Linked DNA regions of Homo sapiens: regions 1 and 3 are each linked to region 2. Evidence: fine-mapped expression QTL. A gene starts in region 2. Each other region holds a variant in brackets. All regions are shown on one strand. Distances are between the middles of the regions.

Region 1 (4,000 bases), 68 kb before region 2:
ATGAAACAACAACAACAAAAAAACCATGAACTAGAAGATAAAGGTTTTAGGGAGGTAGTTTTTAGCTCTGTGATGAGCTCTACTAGTTTAGGTATCCTTATGAAATGCATTGGGTAGAAAACTGATGGAAAGGATTTCTGTATTGGGCATGAAGTTGACCTGTATCTCATAATGGGTGTTTTGGAGTGTTTTCTATGTTCTTTCTAGGCACTGTTCTAAAGGTTTTTTATGTGTTAACTCTTTTTTTTTTCAATTGATATATCATAGTTGTACATATTTTGAGGGTACATGTGATATTTTGATACATGTACATAGTGATCAAAGCAGGATAATTGGGATATTAATTACCTCAGACATTTTTCTTTGTGTTGGGAATGTTACAGTTCTTCTCTTCTGGTCGTTTTGAATATACAATAAATTATTGTTAATTATAATTTCCCTACTCTACTATTAAATACTGGAACTTATTCCTTTTAACTATATTTTTGTACCAACTTTTCTTCATACCTCCTCCCCCCTTCCCAGCTTCTCCTAACCAGCATTCTACTCTCTACTTCCATGTTATCCACTTTTTTAACTCCCACATAGGAGAGAGAATGTGCAATACTTGTCTTTCTGTGCCTGGCTTATTTCACTTACCATAGTGACCTTCACTTCCATACGTGCTGTTGCAAACGGCAGGCTTTCATTCTTTTTTATGGCTGAATAGTATTCCATTGTGTATATGTACTGTATTTTCTTTATTCATCTGTTGATGGACACTTGGGTTGATTCTGTATCTTGGCTATTGTGAGTAGTGCTGCAGTAAACCTGGGAGTGCAGATATCTTTTTGGTATGCTGATTTCCTTTCTCTTGAATATATATATACTCAGCAGTGGAATTGCTGGATCATATGGTAATTATATTTTTAGTTGTTAGTGGTTTTTTTTTTTTTTTGAGACAGGGTCTCATTCTGTCACCCAGACTGGAGTGCAGTGGCACAGTCATGGCTCTTTGCAGCGTCAACCTCCTGGGCTCAAGTGATCCTCCCTAGTAGCTGTGAGACCACAGGCATACACCACTATGCCAGGCTAATTTTTTTGTTTTTTAATTTTTTGTAGAGACAGGGTCTCCCTATGTTGTCCAGGTTGGTCTGCAAGTCCTGGGCTCAAGCAATCCTCCTGCCTCTGTCTCCCCAAATGCTAGGATTACATATGTGAGCCACCACACACAGCCTATTTTTAGTTTTTTTTTGAGGAACCTCCATAGTGTTCTCTGTAGTGGCTGTAGTACTTCACATTCCCACCAACAGCGTGAGGGTTCCCCTTCTTCCACATCCTCACAAGCATCTGTTATTTTTTGTCTTTTTGATAATAGTCATTTTAACTGGGGTGAGATGATATCTCATTGTGGTTTTTATTTACATTTCCTTGATGATTAGTAATGTTGCATTTTTTCATAATACCTTTTGGCCATTTGTATGTCTTCTTTTGAGAAATGTCTATTCAGGTATTTTGCTCATTTTTTAAATGGAGTTATTTGGTTTTATTTTGCTATTGAGTTGAGTTCCTTATGTATTCTGGATATTAATCCCTTGTCAGATGGATATTTTGCAGACATTTTCTCCCATTCTGTGGGTGGTCTCTTCACACTGTTGATTATTTCTTTTGTTGTGCAGAAGCTTTTTAGCTTGATATAATCTCTTTTGTTTATTTTTGCTTTTGTTGTCTGTCCTTTTTTTTTTTTTTTTTTTTTTTTTTTGAGACGGAGTCTCGCTCTACCGCCCAGGCTGGAGTGCAGTGGCACGATCTTGGCTCACTGCAACCTCCGCCTTCCGGGTTCAAGCAATTCTCCTGCCTCAGCCTCCCGAGTAGCTGGGACTACAGGCTCGTGCCACCGCGCCCAGCTAATTTTTTGTATTTTTAGTAGAGACAGGGTT[T/C]CATCATGTTAGCCAGAATGGTCTCAATCTCCTGACCTCGTGACCTGCCCACCTTGGCCTCCCAAAGTGCTGGGATTACAGACCTGAGCCACCGCACCCAGCCCAGGCCAATGTCTTAGAGCATTTTTCCAATGCTTTCTTCTAGTAGTTTCATAGTCTCAGGTCTCATGCTTAAGCCTTTAATTCATTTTCAGTTCATTTTTGTATAGTGTGAGAGATGGGGGTCTAGTTTCATTCTTTTGCATATGATGGTTATCGAGTTTTCCCATCACCATTTATTAAAGAAACTGTCCTTTCCCCAGTGTATGTTCTTGGTGCTTTTTTGGAAAATGAGTTGGCTATGTGTGGATTTCTGTGTTCTCTATTTTGCATTATCTCTTAATACAGAGAACAACTTTATGAGATTGGGAATCATGATCACCTCCATTTTACAGTTGAAAAAAGCTGAGGCACAAAGAGGTTAAGTTACTTGCCCAAGGTTACAAGACTGGTAAGTAGCAGAGTTAAAATGGAGAACAAGGCAGTCTAGGTCTAGGAGTCCATGCTTTTAACTCCTTCATTACCAACCAACTCTGGAAGTCTGTAAGAGGAAAAAACCATTTTATTCTACTTATTTTTCCTAACTTTGATATTATGTGTGTGTAATGTTAAGGATGGAGAAATGAATTAGAAAGCTTTTACTTAAAGTGACAGAAAATTATTGCTCTTAATATCAAATACTAGTGTATTAAATATTTCTTCTTCAAGTTACTGGAGAATATTTGAAGAACTACTTTGAAATATGGAAAACTGATACTAATTCCCCTTGAAGTTTACTTTGGAATGATTTAACAATATTTAGTGTGAAAAGGAGATAGTTTTCAGGGATGCTTAATACATTTACCCTTTACTTTAAAGATGATTTCAAGCTTTTTAGATCAGCAAGCCATCCTGTTTGTGGACACTGCTGATCGCCTGGCCTCGTTAGCTAGAGATGCTCTGGTCCATGCACGCCTGCCTAGTTTTGCCATCCCATATGCCATTGATGTACTAACTACTGGATCTTACCCACGGCTGCCAACCTGCATTAGGGTAAGTTCTTTGCTTGCCCCCATGTTCCTAAAAACTAAAGGTTTTGGCACTGGATTGGATTGTATTATTAAGTAGCCCAGCAAAAAACATTGTTAAAACAAACAGTACATATAGTTTGCTTTTTTTCTCTGTAACTAAAGTTGTGCTTTTTTGAAATAAGTTGGGGCCAGATGTGAGTAGATATCAAAATGGGTGAAGGTTTTATTTTTTTTTCCCCCAGGGATGCGCGGATGTGCAGACATAACATCTATTTCAGATGTGAAAATGCTACATGCTAGTTGCTTTTTGAAAGTGTTTTAAACTTTTATTGTTTTGGTAGTTTACTGACTTGGTGCCATATTGTATTTTATACTTGTAAGAACTTGTGGAAGCTATCAAGTGATATTTAGTTGGTTTATAAATAGAGCATTAAGGGAGGTCATGTTGTATTATGATCTTAGCTAAATGACTAGAATCATTGTTGCTCTTATGCATGATAGTAATGGCCATTGTTTTTGTAAGTAGACTGCAGAAATGAGTGTTAAGATTCTCTTAGGTAAAGTACGCAACACTGTATAAAGACAGGAAAAGATTGAAAAAAAAAATCCCCGTTTGTACATTATTTAAAAATCACTTAAATTTTTTTGCAGGACAAAATTATTCCTCCAGACCCAATTACCAAAATTGAAAAACAAGCCACACTCCATCAGCTGAATCAGATTCTTAGACATCGGCTTGTAACCACAGATCTTCCTCCTCAGTTAGCAAATCTTACAGTTGGTATGTATCTGAAATTTATTTTTTTAAGAGTTGATGGCCAGGTGCGGTGGCTCATGCCTGTAATCTCAGCACTTTGGGAGACTGAGGCAGGCAGATCACTTGAGGTCAGGAGTTTGAGACCAGCCTGGCCAACATGGTGAAACCCCATCTCTACTAAAAATACAAAAATTAGCTGGGTGCGGTGGCCCGCACCTGTAATCCCAGCTATTCGGGTGGCTGAGGCATGAGAATTGCTTGAACCTGGGAGGCAG
Region 2 (4,288 bases):
CATGTATATACAAGAAATGTATTTTTATCTGCAGGATAATATTGTTTCAAATAATTTTATTAAGAGTTAACTTTTTAGGTATTTTCCCTTTTAATGTGGTTTTGAAATGTTAATTGCATTTTTACACATGATGCATTCAGTGGACACTCTTTTTTCCTAATTATAACTCATCTCTGAATGCATTGTGCCAATCAAGAGTAAGATAGGATTCAGTGCGCAAAATTTGCTTTTGATGCTTATTAAGAGTAAACCCATGAATTTGAATTTTTATATTATGCTTGGTACTTGGAATTGATATATACCTTATTAAAGCTTGAAAACATTTAGCATTTGAATAGTAAGTTTCATCACAAATCATGTCTTTTGCCTCTTTTGTTACCCAGGTTCGATCAAGGGGACTGGATGCCCAAGTGATTTTCTCTAATAATCGGGTTGGGACTTAACTTTAAGGTGTTTTCAATGTGATTTTAGTATTTACAGTAATAAATAAAATTTATACAAAGTTTCAGAGAACTACCAACTCTCTAGTTAATTTTGATGAAGATGTTTTCATTAATAGTCTGGTTTAGTATTAATTTAACCTTGAAATAAGAAATTGGTCCTGATTTGCCACCTTCATTTTTCCATCTGCTGAAATGCCATTTCAGAATGTATAAAAGTACTTTCAGAATTAGAAGAAAAGTGAGAGCTTCAGCAGAACGTGTCAAGTCGCTAATAACAGGAGTCGAACCTTATGTTTGAAAATTAACTGAGTGAGTTAAGTGCAAGCATAAACTAAAATTTATATGACTTTGAATTTAAGAACCACTAATAACTGTGTTCTAATTAACACAGTAATCTGTTCAGCCAAAGGATACTAACAGCCATTCTTTGGACTGTGGTTAATTTGATAACTTCAAGAAGTTATAACTTTGCTACCCTGGATTCTGATGCAATTTCAATATAAAAAGTTGTTCCTTTCATAGTTTTTCCCCCCAAAAGAAGTGCCTATTACATTTTACCTTAATGTTTATTTATCATCCAAGTGTTCTTGATATAAAATCAGTATACAGAAAATTTTAAGAGAACTTACATTCAAGGGACATAGAGGGAAAATGTTAATGTGTATTTCATTGTTTCTTGTGGAATTTTTTTTTCATTCGGTTTGAGAATGGACAGTGTGTCTAAGGATGTGATTTAAATTTACTTAGGATGGATTTAGCATTGAGGTTATTAAGACAAAGTTAGCAGAGGCCAGCCAGCACTGTGCTGCACAACTCCAGGAACTCCATGGTATGCTCACAATTTTCTGCAAGTTGCCTCCACTTCCAAGTGGCCAGTGATTTGTTAAAATACCTTGCCCAAGAATATAACTGATTGATGAAAGGGCATATTTAGGTCAATATAAAATAATAGCAAGTATTTACTGAGAGCTTACTGTGTGCTAGGCATTTTCTTAATATTTCAATGTGTATTTAATCCTCACAACAACCCAATGTGGTAGGTTATTGATATCCTCTTCTTAAAAATGAGTAAATGGAGGCCCAGAGAAATGTAATTTGCCTGAGATCAAATTAAGGTTGCTTAAGATCAAACTGCTAAGAAGGGGCAGTTTGAGTCTGAGCTAGTGCTCCTAAACACTGGACATTTTTGCTGTGAACCACAGTCGGGAAGGTTTAATGTTTAGACTCTTTCCTCAGAGGCTTTTAACTACACACAATTTTGACATGTTTTCCAAGCTCAGAAAGCTCATTAAAAACAACTAAAACTGACCTGACTTGTCACTTGGAGTTGACAATCCCAGTGCCTTCTGACCTTTGTGGCACTTCTTTGGAACTTAAATCAGACTTCCATGTGCAAGGAGCACTAATTATCATATAATCAAGAATACTAGATAATTATCGTCTAACCTTTGCTAGGTGCTTCAGGATGCCCTTATCTGGCTCAGGTGTGCAGCCTTCTAGAATCCAAGTGATGTGTTGCCCTAAACAGGCAAACGCCCCCTTCTGGGTGGTCCAGTGGCGGGGGATTTTGAGTTTTGGGTTAGCTTGGCACACCGCAGGCAGCCAGCGGTCACGTTTCACTAATACCTCAATTTGCTACAGCTGGTCTGTGGGCTTAGGAACCAGTAACTCTAGAATTGTATAATGCAAAGAACATACACGATTCAAGCAATGTGCCCTGAGCACCTTGTACATCTGGACAATAAAAAAAAGTTAAAACAGAAGTGCCCTACATTAGGAGAGGGAGTCGAATCGGATGCTGACAGGGTCTCTGTTTGGGGGACGAAGAGGGCCTAAGGGTTTCAAATAGTTAACTGCTTCCCCAAGCACCAAAGTTGTTAGACGTCAGACGTCAGACGTCACCCAAGTGGGGTGGAGCCGACGTGCCCCGGAAGTCAAGATGCCCCGCCCCGGGATCGGTGGCACCGCGCCGCGCAGGCGCAGGCGTCGCTGCCGCCGGCGCAGGCGCCGCTGCCTCGGGTACTTCCCAGGCTCCGCGCCTGCGCACTGCCGTCCGCCACGCCCCGCAACCTCCTGGTTCCAAGTGGGAGACATGGTGCTGTCGGAGCTAGCGGCGCGCCTCAACTGCGCCGAGTACAAGAACTGGGTGAAGGCGGGCCACTGCCTGTTACTGCTGCGCAGCTGCCTGCAGGGTTTCGTCGGCCGCGAGGTGCTCTCCTTCCACCGCGGCCTACTCGCCGCAGCCCCCGGCCTGGGGCCCCGCGCCGTCTGCCGCGGCGGCTCACGGTGCAGCCCTCGCGCCCGCCAGGTGAGCACCTGGCTCGGGGCCTTGACCACCGCCCCCACCCCACCCCTCCTCATCCCCGTTCCTGTCCCAGACCCAGAGCGCAAGTGTCCTGTTCCCTCCGCGATGCGGGGCCCACCGCGACGTCCCTCCCTCCTGGGCCCCTCCTCACCGCCGCCCCCTGTAGTTTCAGCCTCAGTGTCAGGTGTGCGCTGAATGGAAAAGGGAGATTTTGAGACATCATGTCAACAGAAATGGAGATGTGCACTGGGGAAACTGCCGGCCGGGCCGCTGGCCCGTGGACGCCTGGGAGGTGGCCAAGGTAAGCGCCTGAGGCGGGGACGGAAGGAGGAAGCGGCGGGTCACCCAGCACTCGGGGTGGCTATCTGGTCTTGTGGTCGCCGGGGCCTCATAAACAGATGCAGAGAGAGAGATTGATCAAGGGTCTAGGCGGTTCAGGGGTGGTATGCGGGACCCAACCCAGCTTAGTGAAGTAGAAGCTTTCTTCTACCCGTCTGCTTCCTGAGGGCATTTGAGTTTGTTACCCCTGCTTGGAAAGTTACAGGAAAGAGTTCTACAAGAGATACTGGGGCAAGATGCAGAGCGAGCATCATGAGCACAGGCAGGGAGGGAGGGAGACTCTTGTGTGGCCTGTTTGAGGGTAAGGCTCGCTGAACAGCTCATCAGCTCTTTTTTGGCTATAGGATGCCGTAAGGATGACAGAGTAAGCCAAGGGAAGTTAGGGCTAAAATAGCACCTTAAGTGCCCAGTTAAAGGCACTTTGGGTAGCTGGGAATGGGGTAGGCAGCCGGATCTGTCTTCAGATCTTGGCAATGTCACTTACTAAGTAGATCGAGTAGGAAATTTTTTTGCCCAGTAAGGGACGGAGAGGGACAGCCAGAAGTGGCTTCCTAACACAAATTGACTTTAGCAGTCAGTCTACATGCCAGTAGTTATCAGCAGGCACAGGGTGGGCACTGGAAAGGAGCAGTGCCTGGGAAGCAGATGATCTGAGTCCTGGATCAGCTGCCGTGGTGTGACACTGGGCCAGCTTGTGCTCCCCAATCTCAAAAATGAAAGGACGGCCGGGCGCAGTGGCTCACGCCTGTAATCCCAGCACTTTGGGAGGCCGAGGCGGGCGGATCATGAGGTCAGGAGATCGAGACCACGGTGAAACCCCGTCTCTACTAAAAATACAAAAAAATTAGCCGGGCGCAGTGGCGGGCGCCTGTAGTCCCAGCTACTCGGGAGGCTGAGGCAGGAGAATGGCGTGAACCCGGGAGGCGGAGCTTGCAGTGAGCGGAGATCGCGCCACTGCACTCCCGCCTGGGCGACAGAACGAGACTCCGTCTCAAAAAAAAAAAAAAAAAAAAAAAAAAAAAAAAAAAAAAAAAAAAATGAAAGGAATTGGGGCCGGGCGCGGTGGCTCATGCCTGTAATCCCAGCACTTTGGGAGGCCAAGGTGGGAGGATGGCTTGAGCTCAGGAGTTCAAGACCACCCTGGATAACATGGCAAAACCCCGTCTCTACAAAAAAATACAAAAATTAGCTGGGTGTGGTG
Region 3 (4,356 bases), 100 kb before region 2:
GGATTAAAGACTTAAACATAAAGCTTGAAACTGTAAAACTACTGGAAGAACACATGGGGGAAAATGCTCCACAACATGGGGGAAATGCTCCACAATAGCCCCAAAAGCAAAGGCAACAAAAGCAAAAATAAACAAATGGGATTGGATCAAATTAAAAAGCTTCCACACAGCAAAGGAAACCATTAACAGGATGAAGAGACAACTCAAGGACTGGGAGAAAATATTTGCAAACCATACATCTGACAAGAAACTAATATCCAAAATAAGGAACTCAAACAACTCAATAGCAAGAAAAAAAAACAAACTAGTTAAAACACGGACCAATGACTTGACATTTCTCAAAAACAGATACACCAATGTTCAACAGATATATGAAAAACACTTATCATCCCTAATCATCAGGGAAATGTAAATTAAAAGCACAATGGAAATATCATCTTACACCCGAATGTGAGGTGATATGATAGAATATCATGAAATCTATAATAGAATAGGTGATAATAGAATTATTATCAGAAAAACAAAAGATAATAAGTGTTAACAAGGGTGTAGAGAAAAGGGAATGCTTGTACACTGTTGGTGGAAATATAAATTAATATAGCCATTATGAAAAATATTATGGAATTTCCTCAAAAAGCCCCACAATAAATAGAACTACCATATGATCCAGCAATCCCACTACTGGGATTAAAAGGAATCCAATCCTGGCTAACACAGTGAAACCCTGTCTCTACTAAAAATACAAAAAAATTAGCCAGGCGTGGTGGCGAGCGCCTGTAGTCCCAGCTACTCGGGAGGCTGAGGCAGGAGAATGGCGTGAACCCAGGAGGTGGAGCTTGCAGTGAGCCAGGATCGCGCCACTTCACTCCAGCCTGGGTGACAGAGAGAGACTCTGTCTCAAAAAAAAGGAATCCAAAGGAATTAAAATCAGTATGTCAAAGTGGATATCTGTACTCCCATGTTCATTGCAGCATTATTCACAGAGGGTAAGATTTGAAAGCAAGGTAAGTGTCCATCAATGGATGAATGGATTTTTTAAAATGTGGTATATATACACAATGGAATACTATTCAGCCTTTAAAAAGAATAAAATTCTGTCACATGTGACAACATGGATGAACATGGAGGACATTATGTTAAGTGAAATAAGCCAGGCACAGAAAGACAAATATCACACCATCTCACCTACATGTGAAATTTTAAAAAGTCAAATTCATACAAGTAGAGAGTACAATGGCAATTCCCAGAGGCTGGAGGAGAGGGGTAGACATGGAAAGCGGAGATGTTTAAGTAGTTGAGGTGGTGAATTTGTTAATTTGCTTGATTTAATCGTTCCACAATGTAAACATATATCAAACATCAAGGTCAGGCAAGGTGGCTCATGCCTGTAATCCCAACACTACGAGAGGCTGAGGCAAGAGGATCACTTGAGGCCAGGAGTTCGAGACCAGCCTGGTCAACACAGGGAGACTCCTGTTTCTACAGTTTTTTTTTTTTTTTAATTAGCCAGGTGTGTTGATGCATGCCTGTAGTCCCAGTACTCAGAAGGCTGAGGAGGGAGGATCACTTGAACCCAGGAGTTCGAGGTTGCAGTGAGCTATGATCACGCCACTGCACTCCAGTCTAGGCGACCCAGCAAGACCCTGTCTCAAAAGAAAAATAAAAAAATAAAAAGAACAATTCTGTTTACCACAGTCTGCCCTCTGGCCCCCAATGATTCATGTCTCTCCTAAATGCAAAATACATTCACCTTCTCCCAAATTTGCCAAGGGTGTCAATACCATTACAGCTTAAACTCAAAGTCCAAACTCTCATCTAAATCTCATGAATTCAAAAATCCAATATCTCATCATCAAATCACTTAGATTAGGTGTGGGTGAGACGCCTGGCACAATTTCTCTCCATCTGTGGACCTATGAAACTGTAGAAACAAGTTATCTATTGCCAACACATGATGATGGAACAGGCATAGGGTAAGAGTTACAGACATTCTAGTTCAAAAGGGAGGAAAATGGAAGGTAAAAAGGATCACCAGTCCAAAGCAGTTTTAAAAGCTGGGAAACTCCCTTGGGTTTCAAGACTTGGAAATAATTCCACGTGCCTTTCAGTTCTGCCCTCTGGCTCTCGCCTGTGCCCCCTGGGCTTTCAGTTCCTCTCTCTGAGCCGTCCTTTTTTCATGAAAGGTAGAATGTGTTTACAGCTGAGTAGTTTTATCAACCTCCTTTCTGCCAGAGGAATTCTGGGAGTTTGACAGCTTCCTTTCACTTCAAACTCTGTCACTTTCAGTCCAAGCTGGCAGTATTTCTGCTGATA[C/T]AAATTTCTCAAGAACCTTGTCTGCTTTGAGTGGATGTCATAGGAATTCACTACATTGAACAGAAGCCATGTCCACAAATCTGGTAGAGATCATTCCTTCTCTAGCTTTGGCTGCTGCTGAGATGGCTCAGGGACACCCTTAAGCTTCCTAGAAGCCACTGATTTGAATGAGATCTGTGAGGCACAGCATAAACCTCTTGTGATCAAATACTCTAACCTTTTGTCTCTTAATTTTAGTGTCTTCGTCAATCTTGATATGCTGAGAATTACCCAATTCCTTTGTGTTTAACAGTCCTTTCCTCAATTTGTCACTCTCTTCTTGGGTTTTACTATAATCGGCAAGAAGAAACTAGATGGCACCTTCAACACTTTACTTGACCAATCCAGTGAGACCCCATCTCTATAAAAATAAAAATAAATTAGCCAGGTGTTGTGGCACGTGCCTGTAGTCCCAGTTACTCAGGAGGCTGAGGCAGGAGGATCATTTGAGCCCAGGAGTTTGAGGCTGCAGTGAGCCATAATTGCACCACTGCACTCCTGCCTGGGCAACAGAGGGAGACCCTGCCTCTAAAAAACAAAAAAAAACCAAAAAAAAAACAACAAGCAAAAACAACTTTACTTGGAAATCTTTTCAGCTAAATATGTGAGTTCATTGCTTTCAAATTCTACCTTCCAAATAACTGCAGGACACAAGTTTCAGTTTTGCTAAGCTTGCTGCCAATACATAACAAGGATCTCACTTCCTCCAGATTCTTATAACATGAGCCTCACTTCCTTCTGAGGCCTCACCAGCCGCCTTCCCATAGTCCATATTTCTACTAACATTCTGTTCAAGGCAACTTAGGCTGTTATCATGCTCCACAAAATCCTCTTCAAACTTGGTTCCAAAGACACTTCCACATTTTTAAGTATTTCTTATAGCAGCACCACACTTTCAGGTACTAAAATCCATATTCGTTTTCTATCGTTGCATAACAAACTAACATGAACTTACCATATCCTGACCTATATTCTATATTTTGGCATTTATCTTATCTGGCTTTCTCTTTCTAAGGGTTATTTTGTCCGTGCCTTATCCAAGTCCTCTATGCCCCACTATATTTTTTCATGGCATTTCTTTACGCCTCTTCTCCTCTGCACTCTGCACCCACAGGCGTGCAGCAGCAGGCAGATGGCAGGAGCTCTATTAGAATTTGGTTTATTTCTTTGCTTACAAGTAATTTAAACATCAGAATATTCTCTTTTACCAAATACTGATGAAGGAATAAGTCACTGTATTAGTCCATTTTCGTGATGCTGATAAAGACATACCTGAGACTGGGTAATTTATAAAGAAAAAGAGGTTTAATGGACTCAACAGTTCCATGTGGCTGGGGAGGCCTCACAATCATGGTGGAAGGTGAAAGGCACATCTTACATGGCAGCAGATGAGAGAGAACTTGTGCAGGGAAACTCCCCCTTACAAAACCATCAGATCTCGTGAGACTTATTCACTATCATGAGAACAGCACAAGAAAGACCCACCCCCATGATTCAATTACCTCCCACCAGGTCCCTCCCATGACACGTGGGAATTGTGGGAGCTACAATTCAAGATGAGATTTGGATGGGGACACAGCTAAACTATATCAGTCATATGTTGCTTTATTTCATGAGGTTTATTTGTGGAGAGAGGGGTGAGTAGGGAGATTCAGAATGAGGCAGTATTGCCACTGTCCTCCAAACCCAGAAGGCTAGTTTTTCACAATGGTATAGATTATCTATTCTGAAACGACTTTCTATGTATTCTAGGATTGAGCAAATAAGTATATTGAGCCAGATTGTTCACTGTCAGAAAAGGAAGTTACAAATATGGAAAGGGGGAAGACTAGAATGAACCTCTGGTGTTGGATTGAAATATGAGGTATCAGTATGAACTCATGGCTTTAATATATATATATATATATATATATAGAGAGAGAGAGAGAGAGAGAGAGAGAGAGAGAGAGAGAGAGAGACAGATGTGGAAACAAATATGTGTGTAAATGTACACGTGTGTACACA

Evidence for each region. PIP is the estimated chance that this variant, and not a neighbour inherited with it, causes the effect.
Region 1: its variant is the best candidate, but not a certain one, in a credible set for the expression of CXorf38 in whole blood (TOPMed, PIP 0.77).
Region 3: its variant is the best candidate, but not a certain one, in a credible set for the expression of CXorf38 in whole blood (TOPMed, PIP 0.89).

The regions. Positions count from the first base shown.
Region 1 is chrX:40,713,527-40,717,526 of GRCh38, reverse strand. It overlaps MED14 (mediator complex subunit 14), which reads left to right. Exons shown (of 31, transcript NM_004229.4): 4 at 2,817-2,990; 5 at 3,620-3,749. Among named protein-coding and RNA genes, the nearest start is that of MED14, 20 kb to the left of the region's middle. The variant T/C (reference allele first, on the strand shown) is at 1,920.
Region 2 is chrX:40,645,768-40,650,055 of GRCh38, reverse strand. CXorf38 (chromosome X open reading frame 38) reads left to right here and starts at 2,495. Exons shown (of 7, transcript NM_144970.3): 1 at 2,495-2,751; 2 at 2,915-3,049. The coding sequence starts at 2,536. MED14 (mediator complex subunit 14) reads left to right here. Exons shown (of 31, transcript NM_004229.4): 31 at 1-1,751. RefSeq lists silencers at 2,279-2,459, 2,295-2,594, 2,715-2,864 and an enhancer at 3,115-3,314.
Region 3 is chrX:40,747,864-40,752,219 of GRCh38, reverse strand. No RefSeq gene overlaps it. Among named protein-coding and RNA genes, the nearest start is that of MED14OS, 14 kb to the right of the region's middle. RefSeq lists enhancers at 2,161-2,250, 2,321-2,400. The variant C/T (reference allele first, on the strand shown) is at 2,314.